Homo sapiens: one gene and its partner. The protein of the gene in region 2 interacts with the protein of the main gene of each other region in a pairwise test. Each region holds a gene or a part of one and is shown on either strand. Other genes may lie near its edges.

What was found.
Region 1: the proteins of ACTR10 (region 2) and SLC13A1 interact in a protein complementation assay, tested with the Homo sapiens proteins (one large-scale study listed by BioGRID).

Annotation. Positions count from the first base shown.
Region 1 is NC_000007.14:123,123,370-123,127,198, forward strand, and holds part of SLC13A1 (solute carrier family 13 member 1), read right to left. Parts: intron 2,307-3,829; coding exon 2,200-2,306; intron 1-2,199. UniProt on the Homo sapiens protein: Sodium:sulfate symporter that mediates sulfate reabsorption in the kidney and small intestine. Can also mediate the transport of selenate and thiosulfate.
Region 2 is NC_000014.9:58,203,075-58,206,903, reverse strand, and holds part of ACTR10 (actin-related protein 10), read right to left. Parts: intron 1-3,829. UniProt on the Homo sapiens protein: Part of the dynactin complex that activates the molecular motor dynein for ultra-processive transport along microtubules.

The DNA of each region.
Region 1 (3,829 bases), on a different chromosome or scaffold from region 2:
GGAGTTTGAGTAATTTCCACCTGGACTAGGTGGAACATTCTACTATAAAAAAGAGAAAACTCCATAACTTAAAAAAATCCTTTGGGTAATATTATAGAATATATTTCAATAAATTATAACATTGTCACTTATAATGGTACTCATTCATTCACTCACTCATTCATTTATATTCCACTAACATCTTTGCCAACTGTGAATAGCACAGTGCATTAGACTATAATATTCTTTGCTATGCAAAATGTCCATAATATTCCATTGGTTCCAATAGCATCTTGTAGCATTTTAATTATTATCCATTAATATTTGAACATTTTATTAGTTTTTAGGTCATAAGGAGGATCATGATAGATTCACCAAGATTTCAGTTTAAAAATAATTCAAGATTCAGATTAAATAAAGTATTATTTATGAGGTTCTTAAAGTGCTTATAAAAGGATTATCATAAAGATTTCTCTTTATATTTGGCTTCTGATCTCTCCATTGCTTTGTTGATAAAGAAGTTCATTTGGAGACATATTCTGCCCATTTAACTTGTGTATAACAGGCAGCCTTCTACATGGTAAGATTTTAAGTTTACCAATAAGCTTCCTTCCTATCATCTTCCCCCAAATCCAAACCAAACCCATCCTCACTGATAACTGAAATTATGTCACCAGGTTTCTTACTTTAAGGTCATATATCTTGTTAAAATGTAAACATCTCTGACAAGTACTTCTTATTTAAAATTTAACATATTTATATATTATTTGTCATTTTTAAGCCTTGTATGAATGACTTTAGCAGGGAGAAGAGGTTTTGAAGAATGAGGGGAGAGAGAAAGGTGGGTAGGAGCAAGGCTCTTTCTAAGGGAGGGAATTCAGATGTGGAAACCAGGGAAGCTAAAGCCAAACATGGATTCCTCAGTACTTGCCACTGCCAGACCTCAGGGCTTTGACTGCAATGATCAGAGTCCTTGGGGTCCCATAGGAATCAATGCTCCATATTGCATCACCTCCTTAACACACATTGAGATATTCTAATCTCAAGTGAAAAACAAAGTACATTTGTTTCTATGCTGTGCTGGTCACATATGTCCTGGAAATCTGATACATTAGTCATTTATAGATTCTGACAAGAGTCAAGTGGGCCAACACAACTACATAAATCCCAGTTCCATCCCCATAAGAACAAACAAACAAAACCACAAGTCTACTAGTTAATTTCCAGACAATTACAAATTAGTTGTCCCACATTGACAAGATAGGAATCTGACTACTCAAAACATGCTGTGTTGTAAAGCAAAGATATGGATGAATCTTGTGTTTAAAAAGTGTGTGTGTCTGTGTGTGTGTGTGTGTGTTGAGAGGATGGTATGCTCAGGCAAATGTGCACACTTCTTTGTTCATGTGTTGTAAATACAATGAATGCTGTCACAGAATACCTTTTCTTTATTTTTATTACTATCATTATTTTTAGAGACCGAGTCTCCCTCTGTTGCCCAGGGCAGTGGCACAATCATAGCTCACTACAGCCTCCAACTCCTGGGCTCAAGTGATCCTCCTGCGTTGGCCTCCAGATTGGCCACCACACCTGGCTAATTTTTTTAATTTTTTGATAGAGCTGGGGTCTCACCATGCTGCCAAGGCTTGTTTCAAACTACTGGCCTCAAGTGATCCTCCTGCCTCAGTCTCCCAAAGTGCTGTGATTGCAGGTGTGAGCCACCACATCTGGCCCTTTTATTTCAGCTGTGATCCTAGGATATGGCTATGTGAGGTTTATTTAGCTTTTGTTCCAGAACTACTTTGAGAATGTAAATACTCTTTCTCTTGAAATTCATCACCTTTTTAGATCCTCTGCATTTATTACCAAGGTATCATAATGAAGCAGTGTCTTCCAAGTTCTTTTTCCTCTGTTTGCCAATAGTAAGATTAATTTTGAAGTGAGTTTACCATGGGTCAAATAGTATCGCTTGTAGCAGAGCCCTAGCCATGATACAAAAGGAAATCTACTTCTCACTTCTGCAAAGTAAGACGATCTCTCTTGAAGGTGGAAGCTGTGCTGGCTTGAAGACAGCATTGCAGTTTGCAAATAGGGCATGCTAGGCCAGGGATTGTGCCAGCATAGACTTTCTTTCTGCTCTAGGTGCCAAGCGAAACCAATGGAATTTTGTAATTTTTGCTCTTCTGTTAAATTTATGCAGAATTATAAATGATACTCAACCAATTTCTCCTGTAGGTGTAGTTTTAGTCAGTGTCTTAGCTGGGATAAGAAAGAATAGCAGCCCTATAAGTAAAGCAACAGTTGAATCTGTAGCAAAACCAGGGTACCTGTAAAAGGGACAAATACATGTATTAAAAATAGCATCAAGAACTTAAATGAGCTAAAACACCAATTTTGCTAATAACATATCAGTAATAGGTTATTATCAGTAGTAGGTGGTGTAGGTTATTTATCCTCAATAATCTGCCCTAAAATATATGGATTCCCGATTAAATGACACAACACTAAAAACAATAATCTCAGACCATAGTCTTATTGTTCCCATATATCTCTTCTTATTTTCAATACCACGTATACACATGCTGACATACTAGGCCAAAGTGGCAAATTTCCCTTTTAGATAAGCTTACAGATTTGTTAAACAATTTCTTCTTTGAATTATTTAATTTAATAATATTGATCAAGATTTGAAGTTGAAACATTGCTAGAGCATGGAAAGCCCCATATAATTGATTTATAACATCCTTCTATTAAATTGTGGCAAGGCGTGATATTTCTGTGTTCCTCTAAAGCTCTTCTATAAATTGTGAAAAGGAATTGATCTGTTTTCTGAGATATCACACCTGCTTCTGTGTTTATAAGCTCTAACCATATCATACAAAGGAAAGCAACCTACTTAATTTTTTGCACCCCATGAAATTCAATCAAGAATATTAATTGTTGGAGTGGTTTAGCCAATGCTCACAAATGATCACCATATAAATTAAGACTGATTCAGGAACAGATGGGGTCTTAGAATCACCAGACCATTGTAACAAATAAGACAGATTCCCAGAAGCCTCAACAGGAAAGAACCTGGAGACCAGATATAACTGAAATAGGCATTAATAATTAGCATTTAGTGTTAAAAGTCAGCAATATTAACTAGTGCATTTCTGTAGCCTGAGAAGAAATATGTACCATGCTAAAGATTCTTTTACTATCTTGCAACTCAGTAATATGTATACACTACCGAAGCTTCTCTACTTCTATAATTTATTTGAAAAATCTAAAAAGCCAAAGAAATGCCGTATCTTTCTCAATCTAGCAATTTTTAAAGCAGTCTACTTTCTTTAAGTATAGACACATTTTCTTTCATTACTAGTTAAAAATCTACCTTACCATAATTTATCTTACAAACTGGACCGATATTTATAATTTTATTATACCTTATTTCTTTTATTTCAGTTATAATTTTTGGTTGTATTTTTGGCAAATTGGGCCAGGCATCATGTAACCAGATTTCGTTTTATATAAAAAGACACATTGAATTCAGTCCAGGTACAAACAGATGGAATGAAAACATTAGGTGGTAGCTATAAATCTTGATACATCATGTTAGCTTTAGAAATTCTTAATGCCTGAAACTCTACATAACAAATATGTCCTACAAAATATATACATTAAATTAAATCAAGGCATAAATACTGAAATAATTTCTTTTCAAAGTACTTTAAAAACTATTCTTATCATATTATAACTTATTTTTAGTTTCTCAGGAATGCAGTTAGGTTGTCTCAGTATTAGAAACTATTAAGCTTATATAAATTTTATTTGTTTTGGGTTTGCCAATTAGATTTATATTTTAAAA
Region 2 (3,829 bases):
GTAAAATGTCCCCCTTTCTGCTAGATTATAAGCTCTATGCACAAGAACTATTTCTGGCTTGCTTATGATATATCTTTCTTCAAATAATACAGTTCCAGGTACATAGTTGTGGTTGTTCATAAATATGTGTGATAAAAATGACAACAAACACCATTAGCACAAAAGCAGCCTACACACATATTACCAAGCCATGAGTGCTAAGTCAATGCTAATATATAACAATGGCTTCACTTATGATCCTCAGAAAGCTCTCAGTACTCTGATGCATCATTGGCAGACCTCTCTTCATTTACTCTTTCAAAAGAAGTACCATCAGCCTAATTTCTTGATTTTATGTGGCTTAAAGAAGATTCCAAACCATATATAATCAAATATAAATAATTTTTTAGGTATCTGTCTTTTCAAATGAAGATAAAAACTCGTTCGGGCGCAGTGGCTCATGCCTGTAATCCCAACACTTTGGGAGGTCAAGGCGGGTGGATCACCTGAGGTCAGGAGTTTGAGACCAGGCTGGCCAACACGGCGAAACCCCGTCTCTACTAAAAATACAAAAAAAAAAAATTAGCTGGGTGTGGTGGAGGGCGCCTGTAATTCCAGCTACTTGGGAGGCTGAGAGAGGAGAATGGCTTGAACCCGAGAGGAGGAGGTGGCAGTGAGCAGAGATCATGATACTGCACTCCTGCCTGGGTGATGGAGTGAGACTCCATCTCAAAAAAAAAAAAGATAAAAGCTCAAAGCACCAAGGAAAGTGGCAACAAAAACGTACAGGGTCTAATCCAGTAAGAAATCTATCTGGTAACACAGTAATGCCAATTGTTATAAAGCAAAATGACATGAAAAATTAGTAAACAGGAACTTCCATCCCCCGCCCCCGTTTTTTTTGACATGGAGTCTCCCTCTGTTGCCCAGGCTGCAGCACAGTGGCATGATCTCAGCTCACTGCCACCTCCGCCTCCCAGATTCAAGCGATTCTCCTGCCTCAGCCTCCCGAGTAGCTGGGACCACAGGTGCCTGCCACTACACCTGGCTAATATTTGTATTTTTAGTAGAGATGGGGTTTCACCAAGTTGGCCAGGCTAGTCTCAAACTCCTGGCCTCAAGTGATCTGGCCACCTCAGCCTCCCAAAGTGCTGGGATTACAGGCATGAGAGACCACACCCGGCTTCCATCACATTTTTGAACATCAAACCACCAATATCTACCATATTTCTGGCTTGTCCAAGGATTTGCAGAAAAATTTAAAATCAATGAAATGATTCCTTAATCAAGTGTAATTAAAAAGATTTCTGGGCCGAGCGCAGTGGCTCACACCTGTAACCCCAGCACTTTGGGAAGCCAAGGCGGGCGGATCACGAGGTCAGGAGATACAGACCATTCTGGCTAACACGGTGAAACCCCGTCTCTACTAAAAAATACAAAAAATTAGCTGGGCGTGGCGGCGGGCAACTGTAGTCCCAGCTACTCGGGAGGCTGAGGCAGGAGAATGGCATGAACCCGGGAGGTGGGGCTTGTAGTGAGCCCAGATCATGCTACTGCACTCCAGCCTGGGCGACAGAGCAAGACTCCGCCTCAAAAAAAAAAAAAAAAAAGATTTCTGATGTATGTAAATGCCAAATATAAACTGCTGGTCTCGTCTATTCTGCTATAACATGTTTTTTTTTGTTTTTGTTTTTGTTTTTTTTGAGATGGAGTTTCGCTCTTGTTGCCCAGACTGGAGTGCAATGGCACAATCTCAGCTCACCACAACCTCCACCTCCCGGGTTCAAGTGATTCTCCTGCCTCAGCCTCCTGAGTAGCTGGGATTAACAGGCATGTGCCACCATGCCCGGCTAATTTTGTATATTTAGTAGAGATAGGGTTTCTCCTTGTTGGTTAGGCTGGTCTGGAACTCCTGACCTCAGGTGATCCACCTGCCTCAGCCTCCCAAAGTGCTGGGAGTGAGCCACCGCATCTGGCCAACATGTGTTTTTATAAAACCAAATATGCTTATATGCGATTGCTAAAAAAGGAAATAATGTCAGAAAAATGTTATAGTTGTATTAGTTAATATTAGGCAAGACAAGCTATAATTATAATGGAAGTATAACTTTCATCAAGAAAAAGAAAGTCATCAACTCAGTTATCACACAGGTAGATATGCTTTCAGATCTATTCATAAGAAAAGTGTAAATAACTCCCTACACCAGCAATTCGTGCCTCAGAGTGGATCCATGACTCTGTTGGGTTGCATTTCCTCCTAGTTGCTACTTAATAACAGTCCCACTGGCTCAGAGCTTGCTACCATCTGCACTGACTCAGAACCCACTGGCTAACATTTTCAATCCATGACTTTTATTTTTATTTGTTTATTTTTGAGACAGGGTCTCACTCTGTCGCCCATGGTGGAATGCAGTGGTGCAATCTTGGCTCACTGCAGCCTCAACCTCCTGGGCTCAAGTGATCCTCCCACTTCGGCCTCCCAAGTAGCTGGGGACTACAGGTGCGCACCACCTCCACGATTTTATTTTATTTTATTTTTTTGAGATGGAGTCTCGCTCTGTCGCCCAGGCTGGAGTGCAGTGGCGCAATCTCGGCTCACTGCAAGCTTCGCCTCCCGAGTTCACGCCATTCTCCTGCCTCAGCCTCCCAAGTAGCTGGGAATACCAGTGCCTGCCACCATGCCTGGCTAATTTTTTTTTTTTTTTTTAGTAGAGATGGGTTTTCACTGTGTTAGCCAGGATGGTCTCGATCTCCTGACCTCGTGATCTGCCCGCCTCGGCCTCCCAAAGTGCTGCGATTACAGGCGTGTAATCTGCCCAGCCCACAATTTTATTTTTAATATTCCCTAAGACAGCCTCCAGCCACACTCAGCTGCCTGCCAATCCTATTTAAATTTTGTGGAGGCATCAATTATTGTTTTTGCTAGTCCTCTGATTACAAAGTTACACAGGTTTTATATGGACTACCTCAAGCTTATTTTTCCCATAAGCCTGTTTTGTTTTGTTTTTTAAAAATGTACCATTTTGCAGAACAAAGGTATTTTCTGGAATGCATATATAATGTTACTGTGGTAACAGCTACATCTCATTTTTTAACAAGTGAATTTTATAACATGCAAAATCATTCTTTCTACTGGTTGTAATTTCTAATCTGCCAAATTAGCTGTGGCAAGAAACTTTTTGAAAGTTTGTTTTCAAAATTCTCTGGGTTTTGAAACTGTAAATAAGGGAATAAATATCTGATATATTATAAATAATAAAATAATTCAGTGGTTATAAGACTTATAAAAGTATTTTACTGAAGTTAAAATTTTTCTCTTGATATATGATTCCATTTACATAAAATGTACAGAAAAGACAAATCTATAGAAACAGAAGGTACACCCTAATGGGCTGAGGATAGGAATGAGGATTAATTGTAAACGGGTATTAGGGATTTTACTGGGGTGATGAAAACATTCTAAAACTGGATTGTGGTGGTACTTGTACAACATGATATACTTATGGTGTGCAAAATTAGACCTTGATAAAGTTGATTTAAAAAGAAAAACTTTTCCTTGGAAATATAGCCACAAAGTATATATTTAGTACTGTTTCTTGTTTCTTTTTTTTTTTTTTTTTTTGAGACGAAGTCTTGCTCTTGCCCCCCAGGCTGGAGTGCGATGGCTTGATTTTGGCTCACTGCAACCTCCGCCTCCCGGGTTCAAGCAATTCTCCTGCCTCGGCCCCCTGAGGAGCTGGGATTAGAGGTGCCTGCCACCACTCCCGGCTAATTTTTGTATTTTTAGTTGAGACAGGGTTTCACCATGTTGTCCAGGCTGGTCTCAAACTCCTGATCTCAGGTGATCCAC